2 separate regions of the Homo sapiens genome follow, and region 2 is reported to be linked to region 1. Evidence: microRNA targets listed by miRTarBase, many of them from high-throughput screens and not tested one by one. Region 1 holds a microRNA gene; the other region holds the end of a gene's coding sequence.
Evidence for each region. Region 1 holds the annotated microRNA hsa-miR-323a-5p (AGGUGGUCCGUGGCGCGUUCGC, at 5,819-5,840, opposite strand). A microRNA usually pairs through its seed, bases 2 to 8, with sites in the 3' UTR of a target mRNA and lowers its output. Matches are read on the target gene's strand: a 7mer-m8 pairs with bases 2 to 8, a 7mer-A1 pairs with bases 2 to 7 and ends in A, and an 8mer does both.

Region 1 (14,997 bases):
TGTCTGCCCTGATGGAGCCTCTGAGCCAAGGGAGTCGTCATAGAATGGGTAGCGCAAGGGATTTTTTAACATTTGCCTCAAACAGATGGAATGACCAGGGGTCCTGGCACAGCGTCACCACTGTCGATCAGCCTGAGCCGGAGAAGAGCCCCCGGGGCAGACCGGAAGCTGCGGGTTAGGGAGGGATGAATGAGCAATGAATAAAACCCAAGTTCTCAGGTGGTCCACGTGGACAACTGACTTGGTGGTGGCAAATCCTCACCGGTTCCTGCATTCACACCTCACCACAACCCCCTCCCGGGTGGAGTGGGCCTCCCCGCCCCTTGCCTTGGGTTCGGCCGTGTAATTGTTCTGGTCAATGATCTGTGGGTAGAAATATAGCAGTTCCCAGCCTTGGCCTTAAGGAGTTTCTGCGTTTCTAATTACTTTCTTGTGCCTCTGCCGTAGCCATGGGAGCATACCAAGGCCGGGGTGAGAGCTGTGGGTCCCAACTTCAGCCCTCAGGGCAGGCCTTCTCTCCACAAGCCATCCTAGGTATGGGAGGGAGACTGAGGATGAACGGACCAAGACACACACCCGAAATAGAATGTCTGCTCTCAGACAAGATGTCCACTCCCATACCTCTCCATGGACCTGACGCCAACAGCCCTCCCCTGAAGCGCGTGTCACAGCCGGGACACATCTTCCGCAGTCTGACACTGAGGGCATCCAGGGCATCTGGGGCCTCGTAAGGCAAGCAGAGCTGAACAACAGACAGAGATGAGCAACGGCAACAAAGCCCTTTCCCCAAGCATGGACTGAACGCTGCCCACGAAGCGGCTGGATTCTGAGTGGTCCCAACACAGGAAGGGCTCATCTCAATCACGCTGCCAGCTCCTCAGTCCCCCATCCACGACTCACCAGGAGTGCTGCTGACACCAGTGGCCCTGCCGGAATCTAGCTTCATGTCCAGGAAGTCCTCCTATGGAAAAGAGATGGGCCACGTAGCATTCATCAAACACATGGCAAGCTTTGTCAGACAGCCTCTCTTCATGTAGCACAGAATAAAGTGGCCCTCACTACCACAGCTGTCCCAACGCCTGCCCTGTCCTGCACACACACAACACTCCTCAAACCCTTCCGAGGATAAACCACACCCCTGTACCAGGTCACACACACACCTCCTGCAGTCAGCATGTGGTGTGGGGTGGGACTTTCCCTGATGGGGCACTGAAGCCCAGGCCTCTGCAATCCTGGCATTGTCTGTGGCCAGACTATCAGCCCTCCTGGGCAGGATTTGAAACCAAAAGAGAGATTATTCACTGATGATTGCTTATATTGATTTTAACGAGGTAGGAGGAGGGGGCCCCGAAGGGAAACCCCTCCTAAAATCCTGCAGAGTCCCACGGGCCCCACGTCCTCCCACATCTTCTCCGAAGTTGCCATGTGCACCAAGATGTCATCCCACAGATGGACCGGGCGCTGGTGGATAGTCAAACGGGTGACCTACATCGTAAATGAAGTGCACGTCACCGGTCTACCATCCCCTCAGCTACCCTGGAGAGCAGATGGCACCATCGTCCCTTCAATGACGTTGCTAGCGTGTCCAGAAGGCCATCCAAGCAAGATCTCACACTGAAGAGGCGCCACCCACCGTGAATCAACAAATAGACAAACACCACAATGAGCAACCTCCTTCAACCACAGAAGCACAGGCCCTTCTCCAAACTCAGCTTCCCCTCCTAGGGGCCCTCCATGGCTGGGGCCTGAGAGCCACACCCCCACGACGCATGGCACGCTGTCAGCCTCGCTTGCGCCTACCGAGAGTGGAGCCGGCAACGTCCCTCCCTGAAGGCTGCATCAGGAACAGGAAGTGCCTCCAGGGTGGGATTTGATACTAAAAAAGAGGTTTCCCGTGTATGTTTCATCATAAATAAAGAGAAGACAACACGGACAACCTCTCCTTCGAGTATCGAAGATTAGCACTGATCAAAAAACAAACAAAAAAAATCAAAACAGAACTGCCGAATCTTCGCCGATGTTGGTGTCACCTCCAGGAAGATTCCCCGAATCTACATGGCACTGGGTAGACCAGACGTCAGATGGCTTCTATTTGCGTGTCCCAGGTTGCTTTTGGGAAGTCAGCCAAAAGCTCTTCAAGCCTTCACAATGAAAAGAGGTTGCCCGGGAAACATTTTCCGCCAATACAGAGAACACTTTAGGTACAACCTCTTTCCAGGTATTGGAGCTTTCCTGACGGTGGAACCAGGGTTTCCTTGTGGAAGTCCAGGCCACGGGAAGTGCCCCTAGTCATAATGGTTTGCATCCCAAAGTCAGTGCGTCAAGAGAGCTCATGAGTAAATCTCGAATTCTGTGGTCAAGAAGCAGGTGGCTGGGTCTGCAGTTAGCCGGTGCCCAGGCCCCTGTGTGGCACTGGCCATGGGTCCAAGCAGCCTTCCAGGCAAGGTGTGATTCCAAAAACAGATACATGGCACCGAGGAAGCTGTAAGCAAAGTGAGTGCCTGCTACACACGGCTAGGGAGGGAGGGTCGGGGAAGCCAGGAGCACCGCCAGGCCACCTTCCTCCAGGTCAAATCCCACTTAATGCCTTCTGCTGCCTTCAATCCAATTCAGCAGAATCAAGAAATAAAAACGAATCTCATTTCCTGATGTGAGCTCCCCAAATGTTTTAGCCAATTCTGGGCCGGATTTTCTGTTTGCTATAAAACTCCTTTGACAATAATTGTTTTCATGGTGGGGGGAGTACTGTTATCTCCAGACTCTTTTGCATCTCAACAGAGAGTTAGATCAATCCTGACAGGGCTGGGGAGAATCAGGGGTCAGAAAACTTCAGGTTTCCTCTTACAAAGTTGTAAAATTGTGCCCTCTTTTCCCCCGAAGGTGGACCCCGGAGCAGAGGTCTGAGAAGAAAATCCCAGGGCCAGGCTGCGGCTCTGCACCCTTGCCACCTGTCCTTTGACCCCTCCGTAGCCAGCAGAGCACCCAATCTACATGGACCCAGCAGCCGCCTACCCTGGATACCCCGGAGGCAACAGCATACTGCCTGCTGTCACATGGCCTTGACACACTCTCTCTGCCCTCTCTTTATGAGGGCTCTTTTCGGCTGGAAGGAACGGTGTTTGGGTATCAGCTAATAGGAAGGATTGGTGGCGGAGGTCATTGGTGCTACCTCATATGTTCTCTCTGGTTATAAAAAGCAGGGTTGACATGGAAATACCTGGCCCTTCTCCAGAACCTGAGGCCCTCCTCCCTCACAGTCCCATCCCCAAATGCCACAGATGAGCCGAGGACCCACAGTCACAGCTAAGTGCCATCAAAACAAATGCAGCACCAGCAAAACCTACTTCTGTGCCTTGGCTTTAGAGCTGGCAGGGAGCCTTTTCCTTCCCCAGAGGCTGGCATCACCTCCAGGAAGTCCTCCTGGAAAGGATCGGGCACCAAGCATTACTGCCAGACAGGACGCTTAGAACAGGGGAAGCACCCATCTCGGCCCACTCACCCTGGCCTGGGCCTGACAACTGTCTTATCCGGAAGCCTTCCAAACTGGTGTTTGATACTGAAGAGTGGTCCACAGAAATGATTTATATAAAAGAAACAGATATGCCAAAGGAAACCTCTCCTTGAGCACCCCAAAGAAGGACCATCTGCAGAAACACAACCCTGAGGGTAGGTCAGATGTGCTGGTCAGTGGAGCAGGTGTGTTCCTGGGGAGGTACATGCCCCGTGGTGGGCCATCCACTCCCTTCCCCTGGATCAGGGCTGGTGACAATGCCCTCCCTTCAAGCTGGCATGACATCAAGGATTCCTCCAGATTTAAAGGAAGTCAACTCCACAATTCCTGTGAGAAATAAACAGGTCTCAACCTGGGCCAATTCCAGGGCCCCCAAGGTCTCCTCTTGACCTCAGAATCAGCTTTTCTTCCCTAAGGTGTCATTATATCCAGGACATCCTTTCAGAATAAACTGCAGGCTAGGGGCAGGCGTGCAGGACACCTGCACTATCTGTCCAGGGCATGCTGGCATTCCCCTGCTGTGGGCTGGGCTCATTCAAGCCCATCACTGAGTGTGGCAAGGACGAGGCATCCCCCTACAGCAGGGTCAGATGCCGAAAGAGCCTGAATTACACACACGATCCGTTGGGAGCACAACGAAGGCAACCACAGACAACTCACCTGCATGTTCCGTGACACTGTCGTGGTGACACTGTCTTCCCCCAGGCTGCCATCACATTGAAAAGTCCTCCTAAGAAGGGATAAGACATTGAGGGTTAGCGCAATCGGTGGCAAAATTCAGAAACATGGGGCACGCTTAGTGATCAGCCATTTGCTCGTGTCTCCTTATTTATGTCCACAGCACCCCTTCCCTGAAGCTGAGGTCTGGACCAGAAGGCCTCCAAGATGGGATTTGATACTGGAAAAGAGGTTAACCAGGTGTGTTTCGTCCTCAATAAAGAAACAGAAACCCAGAAAACCTCTCTTCAGGTACCACCAAGTAACACTGACAAGAACACCACTGATTCCTTCCCCAAACTTGACATTCAGTCCTGGAAGTCCTGTTAAATACGGATTGGACACTGGGGTTAGTAGAACAGATGACATCAGTCAAAATAATACAGCACAGGCTTCGTGGTTAACCATAGATTTCTGTCCAGTGGACTGGAGCTGAGAGTAACGCCCTTCCCTGAAGCTGAGGTCTGGACCAGAAGGCCTCCAAGATGGGATTTGATACTGGAAAAGAGGTTAACCAGGTGTGTTTCGTCCTCATTAAAGAAACAGAAACCCAGAAAACCTCTCTTCAGGTACCACTGATTAACACTGACAAGAACACCACTGATTCTTCCCCAGACTTGACATTCAGTGCTGGAAGTCCTGTTAAATATGGAATTGCACACTGAGCGTTAGTTAGTTGATTTGCCGGAAGAAGCCAAGAGTTGGATGCATGCTGCTTGCCAACCATCTATCCAAGTACCCCAGTGGAGCAGACCCCACATCACGTCTGGAAGTTGACATCACAGCCAGAGGTGGTGATGCCATAAAAAGGCTGGTCACAGCAGCTATCGCGTTTAGGGTTAACCTCCAGGGCCATCTTTTCTCAGTTACTCAAGAGAGGCACAGATGCCCCAAAGCAAGGCTGACTCCACCAAAGGTCCTGCTAAGGACCCAGTGGAGACTGAGGTGTGACGGGCCAGGCGACCTTGGTTGTAAATTAAAGTGCATACACTCAGGTCAGCTGATCACTGGAGGACTTTGGGATGGTATAGACAGCATGCCCCTTCCCTTGAACTTGGATGCCTCCACATCTAGGAAGCCCTCCAAGGAAAGAGATCGGAGTGAAAATCAGTCCAACTCAGCCACATTTGGCATACATGTCGCAAACGCCTCGCAGATGCTCTCTTCAGAGTCTAACAGAGTGCAGCTGGCCCCAGTTTACTGTCTCTTTCCCAAAAAGTTGACACCTCTTCCAGGAAGTTCTCCAAGGGGGCATTAGATACTGAGGGTTAGTGGACCAGGTCACAAACGGCACAAATAAAGCGTGTGCTCTCTGGTCAACCATCTCATGTATCCAGGCACGTGCTGACACCACGCTCCTTGTCCGCAAGTTAACCCTGCTGCCAAGCCAGAGCAGTGTGCTGAGAAGAAGGCTGCCACACGTGAGTTATCGTCACACACAAGACAAACACATCACAAACCCCGCTGGGTCACACTGAGCGCAGACCTAGTGGCCCCCACCCCCGCAGTTGATGTTAGCTCCAGGAAAGCTTGCAAGGCGGGATTAGATACTGCAAAGAGGTCGACCGTGTAATGTGCGCCATAAATAAAGCGAACGCGCCACGGACCACCTCTCTCCAAGTACCAAGCAGCAGCCGTACTGACACCAGGACAGTGGCTCTTCCGCAAAGCTGATATCACCTCCTGGAAGTCTTCCAAGGCGAGATGTGATATTGAGAAGAAGTAGACCATGTGTCCTACGTCACAAATAAAGCGTACACACCATGGTCAACCGCATCTTCAAATACCAGGAAGTGACGCTGACCCCTGGCTCTCTTCCTTTCACCTGCTATCACCTCCAGAAAGCCTCACAATGCGCATCATGAACTACCAGCCACCGGCAATGTGGCAATGACCACAAACCCACATCCAATGCCACTACCACCTCCAGGATGCCCTGTAAGGGTGGGACCGGTACTGAGTTCTTGGCTGGTGGACCAAATGGCCAATGTAATAAATAAAGGACTGGGTCTGCAGCCAACCACCCGGTGACCTGCACTGCACCCTGGCTACCACTCAGGCCTGGCTCTCAAGTCGGCATGGCCTCCGGGAAGCCCCAGGGCTGGCTGATACTGAGAATGAGTGGACCATGCTACATCTGTCATTCAACAATGCATATGCTTTATGCTCTACCATCTCTCCAAGTACTGTGGAATGGCGCTGAAGCCAGATCAGTGTGTCTCCCACGAAGGTGACTTTGCCTCTCTCTGGGAAGCCCTCTATGACTGAATTTGATATTGAGAAGATGTGGACCATATTACATACGACACAGAGATAGCGCATGTTCTATGGTCAACCATCTTTTCAGGTACCTTGGAGAGGGCTGAGGTCAGAGCCGGTGTCTCTTTCCTCTCACTAGCATCACCTCCAGGAAGCCCTCTGAGGCCTGATGTAGTATTGAGAAGAGGCCACCATGCAATGTCTGCCGCAGATGCAGTGGACGCAGCACAAAGGAGCCCCTCAAGAATGGAGATGATGCTGGAACTAGTGCTATGACTGACACTCGTTCCTGCCTACAGAAAGCCCCCCGAGGTGCACGCTGTTATAGGAAGGTGGACGAAGTAACATGCGTTGTAAGTAAAACATATGAAGCATGGCCAACTTCTACTAAGTACCCCGAGGCAGTACTTGTACCAGAACTGGTGCTTTGTCTCCTAAGCTTAACATAACCTCCCTGGAGACTTTCCAGGCTGAATGGGATACTTCAAAAGAAGTAGACCATGTTACATACGTCATGGGGAAAAGACATGCAGTGTGGCTGAACCCTTTTCAGGTACCGTGAGGTCAGTGAAGAGGCCAGAACCAGTGCTCTGTCCCTGAGGCTGGCAGCTTCTTCAGCAAGTTCTCCAAGCAAGGGTTCTGGGATGGAGATAGGGAAGAAGTGGGCCATGGAGGCACTTCCTCTGTAAACATACACGATGGGGTCGAGCAGCTCTTCATGAGGATCAGTGCTGAGTCCAGAGCTGGGACATCTTCCCCCGAGATGGCTAGACTTGAGATGGAAAAAAGATAGACTGTACACGCATCAGCAAAGACAAAAACGAGTCAGTGCGTCTTCAAGTACCTGGAGTGGCATCATCTCCTGGACCCATATCTGCTCCTACATGGGCGTACTGTCCTGAAGTCATCTGAGGAGGGCTCTGAGGATGAGAGGTGACCTGTTTCACATCCCTCGTTCATGAACATTTGCGGCACCAGCCACCGTTTCTTCAATTACTCCAGAGGGATGTGCCAACGTGGGCAGTAGGACACCTTCCTGGAGGTCATCCTTGTCCTGAGGAAGTCACTGGAGGCTGTGTTTGGCACTGAGGAGAAGACCGCATCACAAGCATTGACAGAGAAAGCACACATCTAAGAGTCTACCATTCCACCAAGTGCCATGGCATGGCGGATGCCGAGACCCGTGGCTCTCCTCTAACTCCAGGCTTTCTCCAGGGAGGTTTGGATGGCTGGGCTGGATACCAAGAAGCGGTTTACCATCCCACATACATATTCAAAATGTATGTGGGACGGTAAACCATTTCTTCAAGTACCGCACGATGGTGGTGGTGGTGGCTGGAAGAAGGCTCATGTCCACGAAGTTGCCTGAGGGCGCTTCTTCTAGGCTGCATTTGACGCTGAGAAGAAGCAGGTCACGGTGTCTACTGAATAAGCGTAGCGTAGTCAACCACGTCATTGAGCACCATGGAATGGCACTGATTCCGGGAAGAATCAAGGTCTCCTCCCCAGGGATGGCGCGATTTCCCAAGGCAGAACTTGATTTAAGAGGAGCGAGATTATGCCATTTTGCATCATGCAGAAAAACACATGCCATACAGAAAATCATCTCTTCGGGTGTCATGGAGAAGTGGTGGTGGGTCCAACCGTTCCTCCCCGAAGACAGCGTTGTTTCCAGGAGCCTCGGGGATGGATTTGATACTGAGGGTTAGTGGACCGTGTTACATACGTCACAGATAAAGCGTACGCTATACGGTCTACTATCTCTCCAAGTACCACACAGAGATGCCGAGGACAAAGGCTCAGGACACATCCAGAAAGCCCTCCAAGGCCTTGAGCTGGGTGGAACCAGAAGGGAGGTTGAGCACAGCACATGCATCATGCGACAAGCACACACAGGCCAGGAGTCTCGTCTTCATGGTCGGGGGTTGACATGAATGCTCGAAGCAGTGGCTCATCCCCAAAACTGGCAACTCCTCCAGGAAGCCCTTCGAGGCCGAAAGTCCCACTGAGAAGAAGTGGACGATGATATGGATTTCATCACTCCATAAATACTGATTAAGTGCCTGCTGTGTGCCAGGCGCACTGTGCTGGGTCTGAAGGAGTGGGTAGATGGGAGGGAGGACATGGCACATGGCTAACAGAGCTGGTTAGGGGAGTGGGGAGAAAATCAGAAATACAAAATGGCCCACGTGCAACCAAAGAACATCCATCTAGTTACACTAACCAGGCCAAGGAAACAGTACTGGGCACCTGAGGCCCAGATCTTACCTATTAGTGAGCTCTAGTCTTGGGCATTAAAAAAAAAAAAAAAGTGCCCTAAGGCCATATCTGCCTCAATACCAAGGGCATTTCCAGGAGGTCCTCTTAGGTTGGATTAGATTCTGAGCAGTAACCACCATGCCATCTTCATGAACAAAGCAGGAGTTGTTTTGGTCAACCACCTCCCTAAGGACAGAACCACTGTCTCATTCCCAGACTTGGCACTGCCTCCGGAAAACCCTGAGACTGAATGTAAGATTGATCAGAGGTGGACATTGGTATAAACAGAAAACTTCAACACAGGAAAGCAACTCTTCAATGCCACACAGCGGAATGAAGGATGGACTGGTGGGTCCCCCTGAAGGTAGTATTGGCTCCACGAAGCCCTCCAAAGCTGGCAGGCTACTGGGAAGTGGTAGCCCATCTCACACAAATCCCTCCTTTCGCACAGGCCACATGGCAAATCATCTCTTCCAGAACCACGGCTGAGGCTGGAACCGGTGTCTTGAGCCCAAGTTGCATCACTTCCAGAAAACTCCCCAGAGAGTGCATTTAGTGCCCAGAAGAGCCAGGCCTTGTTGCACAAGTCAGACATCAACCATGAGCCACAGAAATTGCCGTGGAGCAGTGCTGAAGCTAAACCACGTGTTCTCTTCCCTGAAGTTGGCAACACCTCCAGGAAGCCCTCCGAGGATGGATTGGATACTGAGAGTTAGTGGACCATGTTACATAGGTCAGAAATCATAACGCCTACGTTCCATAGTCTACCATCTCTTCAGGAACCACGGAATGGTGCTGACCCCAGAACCAGGGCCTTGCCCCTGAAGTTGGCGTCACTTCCAGAAAGCTTTCTGAGGCTGGATTTGGCATTGGAAGCAGGCACATGGTGAACATAAACAACCCCTCCTCCAATGTGGGGCAGTGGCATTGATGGGGGAAGGGGTGCCTCTACCCTAAGTGGTAATTCCTCCAGGAAGGCCATGTCAACTTGGAAAGACTGCGACAAGGCAAAATGTACAATACTGACCATGCTTTGGCCATTATGTGGTCAACTATCTCTTCATCAAGATAAAGGGCAGTGTTTTGTTCTGCATGGCAAATGGGACACTCCAAGAGCACAGTTCATCATATAAAAGGGGACCCTCAACCTCTAGGTAAAAACTTCCCTAGCTCACCCAAGTTCCGATGGTCCTCGCCATGCTCTAGACCACCTTTGGAGACTCAAACCACAGAGCTGAGTGGGCAGTGCGTTCCTCCAGCTCCTGATTAACCTCTCCACCTCCTTCAGGAGGTCTTCCTTGATTTTCTCCATCCCCTTTCATGGCACAACTATCCCATGTGAATGGAATGCAAAGCAATGATTTGTTAGCCTCCAGGGAAAGGACAAGGGCAGAACCCTCAGCAGCCCTGCAGGACAGCTCGGTTGTCCTCTAAAGTCCTGAACCCCAGTGTAGACGGGGCCCTGCAACTCAGTTGTTGAAGTCCTAACTCCTTAGGAAGTCATTCAAGGCATCATGCTCCCCTGCTCCCTCCAAGTGTGAGCTAGTCTAGTCTAAGAGATTACCCTCCATACCCCGTGCATTGTCCACATGCCTTTGCTGGCACTACTCCTCCACCCAGACCCCGTGTCTGCTTACATCTCTCTGAAGCCCAACCAAATGGCAGTTCTTCCACGAGCCCGACCCCACCTCAGCCAACTCAGGCCTTTGCATCCCTGACCCTCCACAGCACCCTGCCTGCACCTCTCCTCCAGCCCACTCACATTTTCCATGTGGTCACTCGTAGAAATAAACTTGTGTTTACTGAACATCTGTGAGGTGCTGGAGCTAGACCAGTAAATAAGACACAGTCTCTGCCTTCCTGCAGCTGCTAGCGTTGTGGGGAAAACCAACATTAAAGTAGTTATTGCAGAGAATTGGTTTCAAAATGTGAGGAGGCCAAAGTGTTGTGAAGGAGCAGAGAGCATTTAACAAGAGGCTCTCGCCAATCAGGAAAACTTCTCAGAAGTTTAGATTAGAAGATAAAGGATGAGGGGACTAAGCCAAGAAGAGAGAGGACAAGAGTGGACACTGTAGGGTAAAAGCAGAGGACCAGATGGAGCATGGACTGGATGGAGCATGGGTCAGATGAACATGGTCGGGGTGGACAGTGGACTGGATGGAGTATGGACTGGATGCAGTATGAACTGGATGGAGTAGTGGTCGAGGTGGGGCGTGGATTGGATGGAGCGTGGTCTGTGTGGGGCATGAACTGGATGGAACATGGACTGGATGGGGTGTTGACTTGGGGGAGTGTGAACTACATGGGGTGTGGTCTGGATGGAGTAGTGGTCTGGATGGGGTGTGGACTGGATGCAGTGTGACTGGATGGGGTGTGGTCTGGGTGAGGTGTGGTCTGGATGGGGTATGGTCTGGATGGGGCGTGGATGGTCTGGGTGAGGTGTGGTCTGGATGGGGTATGGTCTGTATGGGGCGTGGACTGGATACAGTGTGGTCTGGATGGGGTGTGGACTGGATGGGGTGTGGACTGGATGGGGTGTGGTCTGGGTGAGGTGTGGTCTGGATGGGGTGTGGACTGGATGCAACGTGGACTGAATGGGGTGTGGTCTGGATGGAGTGTAGACTAGAAGGGGTGTGTACTGGATGGGGTGTGTACTGGATGGGGTGTGGTCTGGATGGGGTGTGGACTGGATGGGGTGTGTACTGGACAGGGTGTGGACTGGACGGGGTGTGGACTGGATGGGGTGTAGACAGGATGGAGTGTGGACTGGATGGAGTAGTGATCTTGATGGGGTGTGGACTGGATGGAGTGTGGACTGGATGGAGATTGGTCTGGGTGAGGTGTGGACTAGATAGATGGACTGAGGTCTGGATGCAGTGAGGACTGGATGGAGTAGTGGTCTGGATGGTGTGTGGTCTGGATGGGGCATGGACTAGATGGTGTGTGGTCTGGATGGGGCATGGACTAGATGGTGTGTGGTCTGGATGGGGTGTGGACTGGATGGGGTGTGGTCTGGACAGGGAATGGACTGGATGCAGTGTGGACTGGATGGGGTGTGGTCTGGATGGGGCATGGACTGTGTGCAGTGTGGACTGGATGGGGTGTGGTCTAGATGGGGTGTGGACTGGATGGAGTGTGGCCTGGATGGGGTGTGGACTAGATGGGGTGTGGTCTAGATGGGGTGTGGTCTAGATGGGGTGTGGACTGGATGGGGTGTGGACTGGATGGGGCGTAGACTGGATTGAGTATGAACTGGATGGAGTGTGGTCTGGATGGAGCATTGCAACCGAAAGAGTATCCATGTGAATTGAGCGTGGGGAGCCAGAAATGTGCCAGAAGTGAGTCTGAGGATCTGGGTGGCACCAGATCATTCAGGACCTTAAAACAAAGGTAAAATTCCGACTTCTCTTCAGGCTAAGGGGAAGCCATTATTAGCTGATAAAGGACATCGCGAGCTTCCTATTTTTACAAGATTTCTCTGGCTGATGTGAAATCTCTGGCTGATGTTGCTGGGAGTAGGAGCAGGAAGAAAGAGTACAGAACCCCAAAGAGAGGATGGTAGGAGTCATGGAGACAGGAAAGCGGCCATGTTTCCGAATATTTAGGAAGAAGAGCACAAGAGACTTGGCAACAGCCCAGATGTGGACAAGGCATGGTGGGTCATGAGAAAACATGGGATGTCCCTGCGGGTGTCTGGCCTGGGAGCTGGCCGAGGGTGGGGCCGCTCTTGGAGCTGGGGGTCACTAGATGAGGACCACGTGCTGGCGGGGCACACTTAGTTTTAAGTGTGCTGAAGTTGAAGTGCCACCAAGAAATCCGAGTGGAGATTCTGAGTTGCCAGTTGGTGGAGGCCCCTGATGATCTGTACCTAGCTCTCTGGGTGGAGTGGTGGGGTTGGGAGCCACAAAGAAGTGAGATACAGAGAAGCCGCCAAGAAGATGGCAGGTAGGTGAGGGGAGCTAAGGCGGATTCTTGAGGTATCTAAACATAAAGGGACTAGAACATAAGAGCCAAGGGGGAGGCTCCAGTCGGGGGGCGGGTGGGGAACTCACTCAGGTCCCCCCTTGGTATGGGAACTCCTCTGGGGCAGGAAAGGGCTGTGCTGGCCTCAGCTTTGTACCCCTAGTTCCCAGCACAGGCCGTGCATGCCACAGCATGGTGAGGAAGGAAGGAGTACAAGAGATAGACCCCAAAAGCATCCATGTCCTCCTGGAGAAATTGGCCTGGGTCCCCACTAGCCTCTTGGGTATCTAGAGAGGTGGGTGGACCCACCTTCTCACCCAGCCTCCCAACACACCAAACTTGGGCCTGGAAGCTCCTGCTGACCACAGATGGCTGGCAACCCTTCTCACTCCCCAGACCCCAGTCACTGTTCCACTCCCTCATCCATCCTTTCTTGCAAAGGTGCACAGATTCATCCACTCCTGCACACACCCCTCTCCCTGAAGAACCCACTCCTCCGCAGAGTCATCCGCTCCTCAGCTACGCATCCTCCCATTGGCTCGCTCAGGTACTCTCTCGGATACTCAACCATCGATGCATTTTCTAGCATGCCTTGCGCAGAGGCTGAGACTGACTCAGTGCTCCTGCCTTCCAGGGGCTCAGAGGCTGGATAAGGGAAAAACAGATACTCAACCCACATGACGTTGATCAGTTAATTCAGAGTGCATGAAGTGGTAGGATTCAAGGTCTACACGATCTATAGTCCAGAAACAGTAAGTAGCCCCACCTACTGCGGGGGGGCAGACCACAGAGGCAGAGAGAGGCCATTTGTGCCCCCCAAAGCACATGGCACAGGACTGGGGGGGATGGTGAGTAGAGAAGGCAGGGATAAAACTCAACACCTTCCTTAGCGTTTGGGAGGGCGTAACAGTGGGAGGAAAGGGAGGAAGCAGATGAATATGAAACTTAATTATTCCACAAAGGGCAAAGTCAGAGAATACTATTTCATTTGTTACCATAGAGAAATAATAGATGTAAGCGTAGTTTTTCAAAAATTGAAATGTAAGCACTAACAGACATAGAAGCTGGTTATGTACTTTCCAAATCACAGAGAAAATTAAAATTTAAAAAAAATGTAGTCTCTGTGAGATAACAAAAGATAGCAGGGAAAAAAGGGTGAAAAAAATAAAACAAGCATTAAGTACATTTTTGTTTTTAAGCGCAAACATGACAAATAAGACACAAAACGTAAATGGGTTACACATCCTTTCCAAAAAGAATGCTCAGTTTGGGTCAAAAGACTCCAACTGAAACTATATGTTTTCTATCTGAGACACAATTTAAATAAATTAACTCAAGAAAATTCAAAGTTGAGGGATGGCACAGATAAATAGGATGGCCTCAATTTCCATGCACTGGAATCCCAGGCAGCCCACACAATCATGCACTGACATCCTCCAAACCACGGAATGCAGACAGAAGCTGACTGCCAGCAAGCAGTCAATGGCACCCCCAGTTTTGCCTACATAGCCATTTTTTTTCAGTTTGCTTGTGCAATTTTAAATATTTCTTTGCAGAGGCTTTCAAAGGGTATTCTCAGGGGCATTTGGGGTCCCCCATAGCATTTTAAGGAGGGTGCCCAGCACCAACAGCTTGGGGTCACAGCACAGCCCTGAAACAAGGCAGCCCTGACTTGATCTATTTTACTTATGGGGCTTCTGGGTAATATTTGGTCTGAATAAAGGGTTTGGCTGCCTTTGAAAGCAAGTATTTAATTACATTTTGCTCCCATTGTTTTATAAATAAGTGGAAAATGGAAAAACAAAGTTGCTGATACCTGTGGTAAGAGCACCGATCTCCTATATACTTAAGAAATTAGTATAAACATGGACATCGTTAGGCGGACCCAACGTGGCCAGTCCTTGGCCTTGATAATTGAATTTAAGGCAGTCGACTGAGTGTTTGAAAAGAACAAAACTAAAGAACATCCATGGAATGTTAGAAATTGCCTGGAAGATTGAGCTCTCGAGGAGCAAAATTCTTTGGAACATGCAAGTCTCCAGTTCAACTTTCAAACAACACTTTGCAGAAACAATTACATGAGAAAGTGAGGCTACCTAGCTTAGGAACACAAATGAAAAGAAAACAGATGTGCTTCTGTGATTTCAGGTCATTAAACACCTCTCTGAGGGGGAAGGTATAATCCACAACAATGACATAGCATTCATGAACATTTGCATTAGAAATAAAATAGCACCAAAACAAGGAAAAAGAATAGAAACATCGTATCCAAAACTCTTCCAGTCCTA
Region 2 (14,997 bases), not on the chromosome of region 1:
GCTTGAGTGATCTGAGGGGGCGGAGGCAATTGTAGGGTGTTGTCAGCAGTGGCAGCCTTCGTGGAGGTTGGAGATGCCTGGGAAACCATAGAGGATACCTCACTGGTACACAAGTGTTCCTGGAGCCTGTGCCCGAGGGAGGCACCCTGGGAGATGGCATGAGTGAGACAGCCTTTGTCCCCCAAAATTCTGTGTCCAGGTATATAGGCTGGAGGCAGTAAATCTTTAAAAACCAGGGGCCCCCGTGGCGGTTCTTTGCGGAGCAGAGGCTCTGGACCTGTGGTTTCAGACGATCTCACGAACCCAAAGCTTGGACAGATTTCTCAGAAACCTGTGAGGCTTCGACCAAAATGTCTCTACTTTCTGTGTTGTTATGTACGTATTGAAGTTCTCTGAAGACTTTATTTAAATAAAGATCCTGCCACTTTAAAAAAAATTAGAGGTGTAAAAATCGTGGATTTAACAGTTGGAAAAGGCCACCTGTGGTCAGGTTAGCTGAGCTGATGAATGTGAATGTGAGGTAGTCCAGGAAGACTCTAGAACCTTCTGAGGACCTTGCCAGAGGAGGATGGGGAGAGTGTGCAGGCCAGGAGAGGAGGTGGGCCACAATGACCCACTGACAAGTAATGGAAAGAGGAGCCTCTCTGTCTTGCTGGTGTTTTTCTTTTTTTTATTTTGGAGATGGAGTCTCGCTCTGTCGCCCAGGCTGGAGTGCAGTGGCGTGATCTTGGCTCACTGCAAGCTCCGCCTCCTCCCAGGTTCACACCATTCTTCTGCCTCAGCCTCCCAAGGAGCTGGGACTACAGGCGCCCACCACCACACCTGGCTAATTTTTTGTATTTTTAGTAGAGACGGGGTTTCACTGTGTTAGCCAGGATGGTCTCGATCTCCTGACCTCGTGATCTGCCCGCCTCAACCTCCCAAAATGCTGGGATTACAGGCGTGAGCCACTGCACCTGGCCTGTTTTTCTTTTTCTTTTTTTTTTTTGGAGATGGAGTTTTGCTCTTGTCGCCCAGGCTGGAGTGCAGTGGTGCAATCTTGGCTCACTGCAACCTCCGCCTCCCAAGTTCAAGCGATTCTCCTTCCTCAGCCTCCTGAGTAGCTGGGATTACAGGCGTGCGCCACCACGCCTGGCTAATTTTTTTGTATTATTAGTAGAGATGGCGTCTCACCCTATTGGCCAGGCTAGTCTCAAACTCCTGACCTCGGGTGATCCGCCCACCTCGGCCTCCCAAAGTGCTGGGATTACAGGCATGAGCCACTGCACCTGGCCGGTCCTTCTCTTTATGATCTCGTGGTTACGGTGGGCTGATCACTCACTCCTTCCTGGAGACAACTTTCTTCCCTTGGCTTTTCAGGCAGCTGCTCGCCTGGTGTTCCTCTTCCCTCACTAACTGTTCCTTCTCAGTTTCTCTTGCCGCTCACTCTCAGCTCCCAGAGTTGGAACACGTCGTATCATTGTCTGCCTTTCCCTTTCTAGAATGTAAGGGCCTGCAGGTTAGGGTGTTTGCGTCCTGCACTATAATATCTGCGGTAACCAGAACAGTGCCTGGCACAGCGTAGGCCCGGCTTATGTGTTTGGTGAATGAGTACGTGCTTAAGTATCCGCAGCCGTGGGTCAGTGTCGGTACTCGCTCCCTGGGAGATCTCATCCAGGTTCACAGCTTTCAATGACATGTGTGTGCTCATAATGCCCACCTTGGCTGCTCCTTCCTGGTTCCATCCTCTTTTCCAGTTGCCCAGGTGGCGTCTCTACATGGGTGTCTAAAAGATCTCAAACATTGTGCCACCGCACTCCAGCCTGGCGACAGAGCGAGACTCCATCTCAAAAAAAAAAAAAAATCTCAAACTCGCCACATTGAAACTGAACCCCCAGTCTCACCAATGCACCCTACCCCTAGACTCCACAATCTTCCCTTTCCCAGTGAACAGGCAGCCCCAGGCTTCAGTTTGCTGTGACCACACCCACACAGTCATCCTCTTCTTTCTCCAGCCCAGCATCTGTCCAGCAGCCGATCCTCCAAAACAAGTTCAGAGCTCACACTGCTGTCACCACATCCACTGCTGCTACCCTAGTCAGGGCCGGCTCTCGCCTGGTTCCTGTAACAAACCTAAGCCAGGTCTCCTGGCTGCTGAGCTTTGCCCGCTATGCTCTGCTCTCCTGTAGCAGCCAGAGTGTCCCTGCTGAGAACACAAGTCAGATCCAGTCACTCCTCTACTCATGGCCTTTCTGTGCTGCTCCTGTTGCACTCCAGATAAAAGCCAGAGCCTTCATGGTGACTAGTGAGCTCCCCACAGGCTCCTGACCTCTCCCCCCACATCCCGCTCCCCGCACAGGCACTGGCCTTGCTGTTCCTGGGGAAGCCAGCGTGCTCCACCAGGGCATCCACATTTGCTCCTCCCTCTGCTCAAAATGCTGTTCCCTCCCTGTCTGCCTCACTGGCTCCTCACTCCCTCTGTGTCTGTGGTCCCCTGTCAGCTTTCTGCTATCCTATTATCCTATCTCCTTTCCCTGGTGTACTTTGCTACTTTGCATCTGTCCATATATAACATACTGCATTTTTTATTTGTTTATCCTATTTATTAGCTCTGATAAATAGAATGTGAAGTCCCAGAAGGCCACTTAGGGAGCTCCATTCACCGCTGTACCCCTAGCAATCCAAACGGCATTGGGCATATAGTACTCAATAAATTATTGTCAAATTAATGAACAAATGGGGTTCAGTGTTCCTTCAGGGAGCCTATAGTTTATCAGGGAGACAAACTGTGTTCTGGGAACACAGAATAGCATTTGGTAGGTGATAAAAATGGGGTGGCAGCCACTAAGTCATTTTAAATTCCAGCACATCGCACAGCAAAATTGTACCTGTTTTCTGTGCCACATTTTAAATAATCGTGTCTCTAAAAACAGGGTAGAAAAGGAACACACACAAATAAATCCTTCCCAATATAGACAGTGCAGTAGTTGAAATCACCATCTTCTGTTTTTGCCTTTCAATGTAATGTAACTTTTTTTTTTTTTGAGACAGTCTCACTCTATTGCCCAGGCTGGAGTGCAGTGGCGTGATCTTGGCTCACTGCAACCTCCACCTCCCAGGTTCACGCGACTCTCCCGCCTCAGCCTCCTGAGTAGCTGGGATTAGAGGGGTGCACCACTATGCCTGCCTAATTTCTTTGTATTTTAGTAAAGGGGTTCTCCATGTTAGCCAGGCTGGTCTCAAACTCCTGACCTCAAGTGATCTGCTCACCCTGGCCTCCCAAAGTGCTGGGATTACAGGCATGAGCCATCATGCCCAGCCCTAATGTAACGTAACCTTTGCACACGTCCCTGTTGCGTGCTCGTTTTTTATGGCTGCACGCAGCCACGGCAGTCCTCAGTCCTCTTTCCTCTGCCTCGAGGCCCAGCTTTGCCCATTATGAGTGCCTTCTCCATACTGGTAAGGTGGACACCTGGTCTTGGTGATGTAGGTGTTGACACTCAGGAGATAAAGAGCCTGGTGGAAGTTCGCCAGGGGTCTTTTCTGTCCCCCACGTAGTCCCTCATGAGCTCCTTGGTGGGCACAGCTATGCCTTAGACTGCTTCTGGGTGTTCCCACCCCATCACCTCTGCCCCACTCAGGCAGAACCCGTTAGGCTAGGATGCCCAGTAAGTTTGAGATAAAATGGAGTTGGCTGCAGGTAGGAGTTACAGGAAGAGGCACGAGCACCAGGCGTCCCTGTGCCAAAATACACACAGGAGGAAGGCTGCCTGGCTTCAGCTGGCTTGTCCCTAGGGAGGCTGTGCGCCTCATTTTCTAGCTGGCAGCAGTCCTCGATCACCCAGGAGTGGAGCTCCCTGCCATCCTTGGGCTTCCCCTCATGCCAGGCACTGGGCTGTGGACATAATGAAAGCCCTGGAAATGTGGGTACAGTTTGCGGAGCTTCCAGGGGGCATCCTCGTGGTGGGGTGTCTGGGGGGCTCTGACTGCTCTCTGCTCTCATCCCTGCCCAGCTCCCCCTCCGGGGCTCCGCGGGACACTGGATCTCCAGGTTATCCGCGTGCGGATGGAGGAGCCCCCAGCGGTCAGCCTCCTGCAAGACTGGTCCAGGCACCCCCAGGGCACCAAGCGTGTGGGAGCAGGTGACACCTCAGACTGGCCCACAGTTCTGTCAGAATCCAGCACCACTGTGGCAGGGAAGCCGGAAAAAGGGAATGGAGTGTAAATTCTTGCTTTCCTGGGGAGGGAGGGAGGGATGAGGCAGCGTCCCCCAGTGGCTTATAACTCAGAGCTGCCTGGCTCACCCACCTGGTGGAGAGAGTAGAAACAGGTGCCAGGGCAGGAGGGGGCTGGGGCAGCATCCACTGTTATTTCGGGGCACTGGAAAGTGTCTGTTCCTGGCCAGGCCTGAGGTCGGCGAGGGTGGCTGAGGCTGTTGTGCAGTAGGGCACTGGGCCTGTGGAGAACACCTACCCCAGTCCTTCGCTGACCCCCACCTCTGTTTGTCCCCCATGACCTCCTCCCACCCTCCCCCTGCTCCCCACCATTCTCCCTTGGCACAGTGCCTTACACAAGAGTGGTCATAAGGGGGTTTGAACTGAGTCCCACTACCTCGGGGGACACCTCTCCTCCCCACTTGTTCAGGCTTCTAAACCAGGAGGCCTCCATTACCTCTTCCTGTCCCACCCCTGCAGAGGCCTGAAGCTGGGCCTGGGCACCCCATTCACTCCCGTTCTCATTTACATCTGTTTTCCTGTTGTATATATCACCTTTGTTGACAATAAATTATTTTTTTTTATTAAGAGTTCCGTCTGGGCCATCATTGGGGGAGAGGGTTTGCTAGCAGGATACCTGGCCACCTAGAGCAACCCTGAGGGGCAGGAGGGTTGGAAGATGGTCCTGGGGGGAGCCAGGGAGCCACCTCTCCTGAAGGTGGGACAGCACCAGGGCAGGCCTCTGTGGAGCCCAGGAACGAGGGCTGACTTGTGCTATCAGTCACCTGTGGGCGTCTCACCCCCTCCCTTCCTCTCTGCTCTGGAAAGGGGGTCAGAAACAATTTTCTTTAACATTGTACCTTCTGGCTCACCTGGTAGGCCTCTGCCCAAAAGAGGTCACTGTAGAAGCCCAGGGGTGCTCACAACCAGGGAGCTGGGAATTAGCCTGAGCTTGCTTGCTTGCTTGCTTGCTTTTTCTTTTCTTCTTTTTTTTTTTTTTTTTTTTTTTTTGAGACAGAGTTTCATTCTTGCTGCCCAGGCTGGAGTGCAGTGGCGCGATCTCGGCTCACTGCAACCTCCACCTCCTGGGTTCAAGTGATTCTCCTGCCTCAGCCTCCCTAGTAGCTGGGATTACAGGCACCCACCACCATGCCCATGCCCAGCTAATTTTTTGTATTTTTAGTAGAGACAGAGTTTCACTATGATGGTCAGGCTGGCCTCGAACTCCTGACCTCGGGCGACCCACCTGCCTCAGCCTCCCAAAGTGCTGGGATTACAGGCGTGAGCCACCACGCCCGGCTTATCCTGAGCTTTCTAAAGTGAAATGGCGGTAACCAGCTTGCAGGTAGAAAGATGCCTCTCCTCCCTTTCCGTATGATGGTGAGGGGCACAGGGGTCCTAAACTCAGCCCCGCCTTTTCCAGCCCTACAGGCCTGCACCCTCAGCTGTCCACCTTCATCCCCCCCAACCCTTGGCTTAATTAAACCCAAACACTTGCTGGTTTCCCCTATTCCCTGGATCATGAGGAGGCCACTTTTGGTCTCTTCACCGGATTCCTTACCTTCCTAAACTAAACCAACAGGGGCCAGATCTGTGCGTGGTTTTCCCTTTGGTGAGATGGAGCACACAGGCAGCCCCTTCTCAAACCCCAGCTGTACTGTCCTGTTTAGAGCCCATGGCAGGTGTGGTAAGCAGGACTGTATACCTCTGCACATGCTGACAAATGTGCACATAGGAGAAGTGGGGGCACAGGTGGGACTTGGAGGGCAGCTATTCCTGTAGGACGCTGACATTGGCACATTTTTTTTTTTTTTTTTGAGTTGGAGTCTTGCTCTGTCACCCAGGCTGCGATCTTGGCTCACTGCAACCTCTGCTTCCCAGGTTCAAGCGATTCTCCTGCCTCAGCCTCCCGAGTAGCTGGGATTACAGGCGTGCACCACCATGCCTGGCTAATTTTTGTATTTTTTGGTAGAGATGGGGTTTTCGTCATGTTGGCCAGGCTGGTCTCAAACTCCTGACCTCAGGTGATCCACCCACCTCGACCTCGCAAAGTGCTGGGATTACAGGCGTGAGCCACTGTGCCCGGCCAACACTGCCAGATTTTGAGACTAACCAGGAAGTTCATCTCGGGCAGGCAGGGTCTGGGCCTGGGCAGCGTGTGCTGTGTGCTCACCTGATGGGGTGTCACCATGTGCCAAGCCAGGTATGAGGGATCTCACGACTTGGTGGGCTCCTGGGACATGATCCCTTCTCCCCATCTGATAAGCTCAGGAGGAGCCTAGAAATATACAGGGTCTTTGTCTAGGGGACATTAAAAGACAGGTGTGGTGGACAGAAGGCAGTGGCCAAGGCTTCAGGATGCCTTGTATCTAGTGTGGCTCCCCCACTGCATGATGGCAGGCAGGCAGGCCGGCCACGGAACTCCCATGTCTCAAACACCATTATCCACAGATTGGCAAAACTTGTATCCTACCTGATAGGAGGGAATAAATAATGCTAAAAATCTGGTTCTGCAAGCACAAATACTGCAAATGGTTTTCTCTCATCCTTTCAATCCTGTGACTTGTGTTTACATTTATGCCAATGTGCTTTTAAAACAACATGGCTGTGTTGCTGGGTGTTTACACTTGAGAAAACGTATGTAAAAGTTTGTTGTAAAATTGTGAAGCCAAATGCCCCTTTGCTGTTCTATGATTAATGGCTTGGCCTTCTAGACTGTGAGCTCCTGGGCAGGGACCAGGTTGTATTGACTTTGTTTTCCAAGTGTCCTGCCTGGGGCCTGGCACATAGTAGGTGCTCAATAAATGTTTCTCGAGTGCCCTCTGAGTGTGTATTCCTGTGTGACATTTTTCTAGTGCATGTTGGTCCCTGGAGTGTGGTTCTCAGCACAGGGTGGTTGCTACAGTGACTGTGCAGGGTGGGAACTTCATCCCCACATTGTGGCCAATAGGGGTCTCCCCAGCCTCAGCCAGGGCCCTGGGGACTATGTGAGTGTGTGTGGCCAGCAGCTGTGTGTGGCACCTCTGGGCTTCCAGGAAAGAGTTGGAGAAAGTGGGGCTGAGGATATGACTCCAGCCCAGGCTGGAAGGACCTTACTGACGGATTGCCCAGGGCTTTCCTACTCCACACCGGCTTGGAGTCCGTGACGCTGGTCCTGCATCCTGGTGCAACACCAGGGAAGCTCTGCACGAATGTCGGTGACTCTCAGGGCTGGTGGTGGCACCTTCATCCATGTGGTGCTGTGGCCCAACCATGTGTTTGGTTGAAGAAGTTGGGGAAGAGGGTGCCGCTGCCCCTGACTGCTGAGCCACACACCCATTTCCTGACTTCCCAGACCTCCTTGGCTCTCTGAAGCCAGCCACCTCCTGCCCTCCCAGCTGCCTTCCATGGGATCCAGGTGTGGGAGATCTTTTTGGATACCTAACAAGGAAAAACTTTCTACATTCCCAGTACTTCTGACACCAATGTTAGTGGGGAGGGGGGCGCCCACATCAATTCTCCGACTCTCCAGACACCAGCCAGCTGTTCTAAAATTCAGTTCTGACACTCACTACCCAGAGTTAGCACGGTCCCTGCAGGTGAAGGGCTCAGTCCCAGCAGACTGCCCCTGCTTCAGATACCAGTTCTAGGTCCCAGCTTGTCACCTGTACTTCTGACCAGCCCAAATTTGGAAGTTCCCACAACCCCCTCCTCAGTTTTGATAATTTGCTGTAATGGCTCACAAAAATCACAGAAACAGGCCGGGCGCGGTGACTTACGCCTGTAATCCCAGCACTGTGGGAGGCCGAGGCGGGTGGATCAACTGAGATCAGGAGTTCGAGACCAGCCTGGCCAACATGGCAAAACCCCGTCTCTACTGAAAATACAACAATTAGCTGGGCGTGGTTGCGGGTACCTGTAATCCCAGCTACTCTAGAAGCTGAGGCAGGAGAATCACTTCAAGTCAGGAGGTGGAAGTTGCAGTGAGCAGAGATCACGCCATTGCCCTCCAACCTGGGTGACAGAATGAGACCCTGTCAAAAAAAAAAAAAAATTAGGGAAACATTTACTTACATTTACTTGTTTATAAAGGATGTTACATAGGATATAAACAAACAGGTGATGAGGTACTGAGGGCGAGGTTCAGAAGGGTTCCAAGCACAGGAGCTTCTGTCCTAGTGGAGTTGGAGTGAGCCACCCTCCTGGCATGTGGATGGGGTGCTGTCCCTGACCTGGAACCTCCCAAACCCCATTATTTAGGGTTTTTATAGAGGCTTCATTAGGCACGATTGATTAAATCATTGGCCACTGGTGATTGGCTCAATCTCCAGCCCCTCTTCCCTCCCCAAGGTCTTGGGTAGGGATGAAAGTTGCAATCCCCTAATCACGTGGTTGGTTTCTCTGGCCACCAGCCCCATCCTCCAAGAGTCATCTCATTAGCGTGAACTCAGGTGTGGTGAAAAGAGACTCATTATGAATAACAAAAGATGCTCCTCTCTCCCCATCACTCAGGAAATTCCAAGAGTTTTAGTTCTGGACCAGAAACCCGGATGAAGACCAGATATATATGTCTCTTTTTTTTCTTTTTGAGTCGTAATCTTGCTCTGTCGCCCACGCTGGAGTGCAATGGCATGATCTTTGGCTCACTGCAAGCTCCACCTCCTGGGTTCCAGTGATTCTCCTGCTTCAGCTTCCTGAGTAGCTGGGATTACAGGCACCTACCACCACGCCCAGCTAATTTTTGTATTTTTAGTAGAGACGGGGGTGGGGGGGTTTCACCATATTGGCCAGGCTGTTCTCTTGGCCAGACTGGTCTCGAACTCCTGACCTCGTGATAACTCCTGCCTCGGCCTCCCATAGTTCTGGGATTACAGGCGTGAGCCACCTGCGCCCAGGTGTCTTTTTTTTTTTTTTTTTTTTTTTTTTTTTTTTGAGACAGGGTCTCGCTCTTGAGGCCCAGGCTGGATTGCAGTGGCACAATCTCGGCTCACTGCAACCTCCACCTCCAGGGTTCAAGCAATTCTCCCGCCTCAGCCTCCCAAGTAGCTGGGATTACAGGTGCTTGCCACCACCATGCCCAGCTAATTTTTTGTATTTTTAGTAGAGATGGGGTTTCACTGTGTTGCCAAGGCTGGTCTTGAATTCCTGACCTCAGGTGATCCACCCGCCTCGGCCTCCCAAAGTGCTGGGATTACAAGTGTGAGCCACCAAGCCTGGCCGATATATATGTCTTTTTATATCACAATGCTGGTAATCCTCTCTTTCTTGGGGACAAAGCCAGTCTGAGACAAGGGAACAGTCACCCCTGCCCTCCTTGAAGAGAAACTGGAGCATGTGGGAGTGTGAATGGGAATGGGGGACACTGGCTGGGCCCCTGCCGCACCCCAGTGGTGGCACTGGTCTGGTCCAGGCCTTGAGGCTTTCTAGCAGATGCTCCTGCAATCTGAGCTTCCTGTTTCTCTGCAGAAAATGCGGCAGTCACCCCCACCTCCACCCCACACACAGCTGGGCTGCTGTGTGGCTCAAATGAGACTCTGCATTTGGGGCCCTTTGTAAACTGTAAAATCCTGCACACCCCTAAGGTGTGGTAGAAGATGGGGGCTGGGATGGGAGAGGGTCTCTAATGGGCTTGCAGACCCTCTCTGCCATCGGAGTCTCTTGGGAGGGGGGCACCCTACTGAGGCTGCTTGCAGGTGCAGGGACAGGGAAGGGACTGCAACACCTCCTGGGGTGTCTGCCTTCCTACCTCCCTGGAGCCAGGTGCCTCAGCCCAGAGCCATCATGCCACCAAATTTGCTCAGTCCCTTTCTCCCCTAGAGAGAACACCCTCATTCTCAGGACAAATGTACCAGCGTCCAGGAAGGAAGAGGAGCCAGCCTTTGGGTTCCCAACACCAATGTCAATGGCTTGGATCTCCTCCAGCCCCACATCTGGTGGGGGTGGGCAGAGGAAGCAGGAAAAGCAGGTGTGTGATGGGAGATGGGGTAACCACCCTGTGTTGCTTAGATCACACAAGCATCAGTGAAGGACCCCATGGGCAGGCACTGTTAGAAACTATGGGGTACAGACAGGACACCTACCCTGGCTTCATCACAGATCACCTCATATTGTGCCCATTATACAGGTGAGGAAACTGAGGTACAGTGAGATGAATGCAGTGACTTGCCTGCCATTCCAGAGCTAGTAAAGGAACAGCTCTGGCCAGGCATGGTGGCTCACGCCTGTAATCCCAGCATCTTGGGAGGCCAAGGGGAGGCGGATCACCTGAGGTCAGGAGTTCAAGACCAGCCTGGCCAACATGGTGAAACCCCATCTCTACTAAAAATACAAAACTTAGCTGGGCATGGTGGCAGGCGCCTGTAATGCCAGCTTGGGAGGCTGAGGCAGGAGAATCACCTGAACCCAAGAGGCAGAGGTTGCAGTGAGTGGAGATGGTGCCACTGCACTCCAGCCTGGGCGAAAGAGCAAGACTCCATCTAAAAAGAAAAGAAAAGGAAAAAGAAAATAAGAAAAAAGAAACAAAAGGGAAAAGGGGGTCTTACTCTGTTGCCCAGGCTAGAGTGCAGTAGTGCAATCATAGCTCACTGCAACCTCAACCTCCTGGGTTCAAGTGATCCTCCCACCTCAGCCTCCCAAGTAGCTGGGACTACAGTTGTGCCACCATGCCTAGCTAACAGGGGTCTCCCTATGTTGCCCAGGCTGGTCTCAAACTCCTGGACTCAAGGGATGCCCCCCACCAAATTTGGCCTCCCAAAGTGCTGGGATTACAGGCGTGAGCCATCACACCTGGCTTTTATTTTATTTATTTATTAATATTTAGAGACAGGGTCTCACTCTGTTGCCCAGGCTGGAGTGCAGTGGTGTGATCATAGCTCACTGCAGCCTCGACCTCCCAGGCTCAGGTATAATCCTCCTACCTCAGCCTCCTGAGTACCTGGGACTACTGGCAAATTTTTTGTATTTTTTGTAGAGACGGGGGTTTGCCATGTTGCCCAGACTGCTCTCGAACTCTTTAGCTCAAGCAATTCATTCACCCACCTCAGCCTCTCAAAGTGCAGAGATTATAGGCATGAGTCACCATGCCGGGTCAGGCCTTAATTTTTTTAAGAAAAGGGCTAGGTGCCATGGCTCACGCCTGTAATCCCAGCACTTTGGGAGGCCGAGGTGGGCAGATCATGAGGTCAGGAGTTTGAGACCAGCCTGGCCAATATGATTAAACCCCGTCTCTACTAAAAATACAAAAATTGGCCAGGCGTGGTGGCGCACGCCTGTGGTCCCAGCTACTCAGGAGGCTGAGGCAGAAGAATCTCTTGAATCCTGGAGGTGGAGGTTGCAGTGAGCTAAGATTGCACCACTGCACTCCAGCCTGGAGACAGAGGGAGACTCCATCTCAAAAAAATAAATATATAAATACGTAAATAAATAAATTTAAAATTTGAAATGTTTTTAAATTTAAAATTTTTGACACATTTTATTCAGATAGTAGTCTGATCACATATGGTCTAAGAACAGTCAAATCATAAATCAAATATAAATCAAATGTTAAAGATGGATCTTCAAACATTGTAGCCAGTGATGCCACACTCACCTATGATCTCTGTGACATAAAACCACATCCACACCCCAGTGACCTCTGAAACATTCAACACAGCTTCCTTGACTGTGAGCTGTTTGAAGCTACCAGTTTGAGCGCTATTGACTTTTTTTTCCAGGCCCTGAATAACTCTAGGGATCTCAGCAGGGTTTGGAGGAACCAACTCCACCTCGGCGTAGTACTGAAATGTGGCCAATCAAGGCTTCAACTGAGTCACAGCAGCGTTCACCAGTACCAGGGCCTTCTCTGGCGAGGTGGTGGACAAATCAGGTCATGGTTCTAGGATGGAAAGTCTGTCGCCCCGAAGGGCCCGCTGAATGCCAACACCTCCCGGCAGTTTTACTCTCTGTGTGTGTTTTGTTTTCAGTTGTTCAGGCGGGAAAGCCTGCAATCGTCTTTAACTCCCCTCTTTCATAACCCCAACCCATCCGAAAGCCTGTTGGCTGTACCTTTCAAATATGTCCCAAATCTGATCACTTCTCACTACTTCCACTGCTGCTGCCTGGCCCCAAGCCACTGGCATCTCTCCCTTGAATTGTTGTAAAAGCCTCCTTGCTAGTGCCCCGGGTCTGCTTCTGTCATGCCCTTTCACTCTGTTCTCAGCCCAGCAGCCAGTTAGATCATGTTACTCCGGCGGCAACTCATCCCACTCCCAGGGAAAACCACAACGGTAGCCCACCAGGCCTGGTTCCCGTCGCCACACACCTACCTCCTCACTCACTCTGCTCCAGGCTCATTGGCCCCTTGCTCTTCAAACAGGCCAGGTATGCTCCTCTGGCTGGGTTCCTCTTCCCCTAGATGTCTGCAGAGCTCATGCCTTCACCTCCTTCAAGTCTTTTTTTTTTCTTAGCCTCCCAAAGTGCTGCGATTACAGGTGTGAGTCACCACGCCCGGTCTCCTTCAAGATTTTACTCAAGTGTCACCTTCTCAGTGAGGGCTCATGAACCCCCTCAGTACTGTAGCTTGTCTTCCACCCTCTCACCCCTGTAATCCTGGCTTAACTGGCTCTGTTTTTTTCTGATATCACTTAATACTGACTCTTTTGTTTGTTGTATGTCTTCCTCAAAATGAAAAGTAAGCTCCCCAAGGGCAGAGTTGTTTTTTTTTTGTTTTGTTTTGTTTTGTTTTGAGACAGAGTTTCTCTCTTGTTGCCCAAGCTGGAGTGCAGTGGCGTGGTGATCTCGGCTCACTGCAACCTCTGCCTCCTGGTTTCAAGCGATTCTCCCGACTCCACCTCCCAAGTAGCTGGGATTACAGACGCCCACCACCGTGCCTGGCTAATTTTTTGTGTGCTTTTTTTAGTAGAGACGGGGTTCCACCATGTTGGCCAGGCTGGTCTCGAACTCCTGACCTCACATGATCCCCTCACCTTGGTCTCCCAAAGTGCTGGGATTACAGGCATGAGCCACCGCGCCTGGCAGGCAGAGATCTTTATCTTGTTCACTGATCTACCTAAAAGCCTAAAACAATGCCTTGCACATAGTAGGTGCTCAGTAGGGATTTGCTGAATGAATAAATGAATTTGCAGATTTAGAGAGGGGGTAAATGTGTGGCAATAATTCATCTTTGAGGAGAACTAGGAGGGTTCATGGATTTGAGTAGGTGAGATTTGAACTGGATCTTGAAGTGGTTCTGGAAGCTGAGGTGGATGATGGGCAATCATCTATCAGCTTGACCAAAGGCATGGAAGTGAGAGAGACTGGCAGCGGGGTAGGAGTTAGGGAGAAGTGTGATCAGTGATAGTTGGAGAGGTTATTGTAAGGCAATGTGAGGCCAGATTGAGCAAAGTTTTAAATGCAGGCTAAAGGCTTTTCCTACAGCCAGGACCAGCTACATAATTTGTGGGGCACAGTGCAAAATGGAAATGCATGGCCCCCTTGGTCAAAAATTTCAAGATAATGGGCCGGGCGTGGTGGCTCACGCCTGTAATCCCAGCACTTTGGGAGGCCGAGGCAGGTGGATCACTTGAGGTTGGGAGTTCTAGACCAAACTGGCCAACATGGTGAAACCCTGTCTTTACTAAAAACACAAAAAATTAGCCGGGTGTGGTGGTGGGCACCTATAATCCCAGCTATTCAGGAGGCTGAGGCATGAGAATCACTTGAACCTGGGAGGTGGAGGTTGCAGTGAGCTGAGATCGCACCACTGCACTCCAGCCTGGGAGATAGAGCGAGATTCAGTCTTAAAAAAAAAAATTTCAAGATGGTGACAGCAGAGCATTAATCCAAGCTCAGGGTCCACCTGAGCACAGGGCTCTGTGTGACTGCATGGGGTCGTGGGCCCAAGAAGCCAGCCCTGCCTATAACCAGTGAGGGAGCTGGTGATAGCTTTCTAGCAGAGCAGAGATGTTATTGGAGCTGGACTTTGGGAAGATTATTCTGACATGTCTGGTGCAGTAGGTTGGAGGGAGTCTAGGCGGGGAGACAAGCTCAGCAGCCTTGTGCAAAGCTAGCAAGGAAGAGAAAGGATAGGTAGGGTAGGGGTTGGGGATGAAGGTCAAAGGGCAGGGGTGAGGCAGGGGTTAGAGCTAGAGTGAGAAGCTTGGAGAAGATGGAGTCTATTTAGACGAGAGTGTGGACCAGGGAGAGACTGCTGGAACACCAACCACCAACTGCTTCCTCTCTCTTTTCCCTGCTTTCCAGACCCTGGCATTAGAGGTGATACCAGGCACAGGAATCAGCAACGTGTCTCCCTTTGGCCACCAGAGGGCAGATGATTCTCAAGGATCGAATTTGGGTTGGGGAGTGAGGTGTTCTCTGTCCTCCTCTTCTCTCTTTCCCTCACCTTCATGGGTGTGCCTTCACCTTCTTCCTCAACGGTTGGGTGCCTGAATAGAGCTGGTATGGGGCATGGGGAGCAGTGCTGAAGTCCCAGGATTTACTAAGAGTGTAGTGATACCTGTTGCCTTAGGAAGTACTTTCATACCCTGGTAATTACATCTGCTCAGATGCCTATTTCTCTGATTGATGGGATGAAGGCTGGCTCAAGATGCTGTAGCTGGGAGTTGGAGGTCAAGTAGCAGGGGTCCAATCAGCAGTTTTCCCAATAACTCCTGGAGCCTCTCTGCTCCTGTACCTTTGGGAACCTGTTGCCTGAGTCTGGTTTCTGACTCCTGCGGGGCCTCTGCCTCCTGCCCACCTTAAGCCACTGATGGGAGGGTGTGGTTCCAACGTGTTCCAGGTACTATGGGTGAGGACAGCTTGGCGCTGGGGAAATCAGCCCAGGATACTC

Region 2: the mRNA of SPINDOC is a reported target of hsa-miR-323a-5p. The part of its 3' UTR that is shown has no 7-base or 8-base seed match.

The regions. Positions count from the first base shown.
Region 1 is chr14:101,016,590-101,031,586 of GRCh38, reverse strand. MIR323A (microRNA 323a) reads right to left here and starts at 5,855; the gene lies at 5,770-5,855. LOC124903407 (mucin-2-like) reads right to left here. Exons shown (of 5, transcript XM_047432049.1): 5 at 1-11,934. The coding sequence ends at 10,783. It overlaps MIR379 (microRNA 379), which reads right to left and starts at 9,521; the gene lies at 9,455-9,521. It overlaps MIR411 (microRNA 411), which reads right to left and starts at 8,262; the gene lies at 8,167-8,262. It also overlaps MIR299, MIR380, MIR1197, MIR758, MIR329-1 and MIR329-2, and 2 more genes.
Region 2 is chr11:63,822,936-63,837,932 of GRCh38, forward strand. It overlaps SPINDOC (spindlin interactor and repressor of chromatin binding), which reads left to right. Exons shown (of 6, transcript NM_138471.3): 6 at 3,993-4,781. The coding sequence ends at 4,204. It also overlaps the pseudogene ATP5MGP1. Among named protein-coding and RNA genes, the nearest start is that of MARK2, 8.7 kb to the right of the region's middle. RefSeq lists a silencer at 8,386-8,603 and enhancers at 9,412-10,231, 14,861-14,997.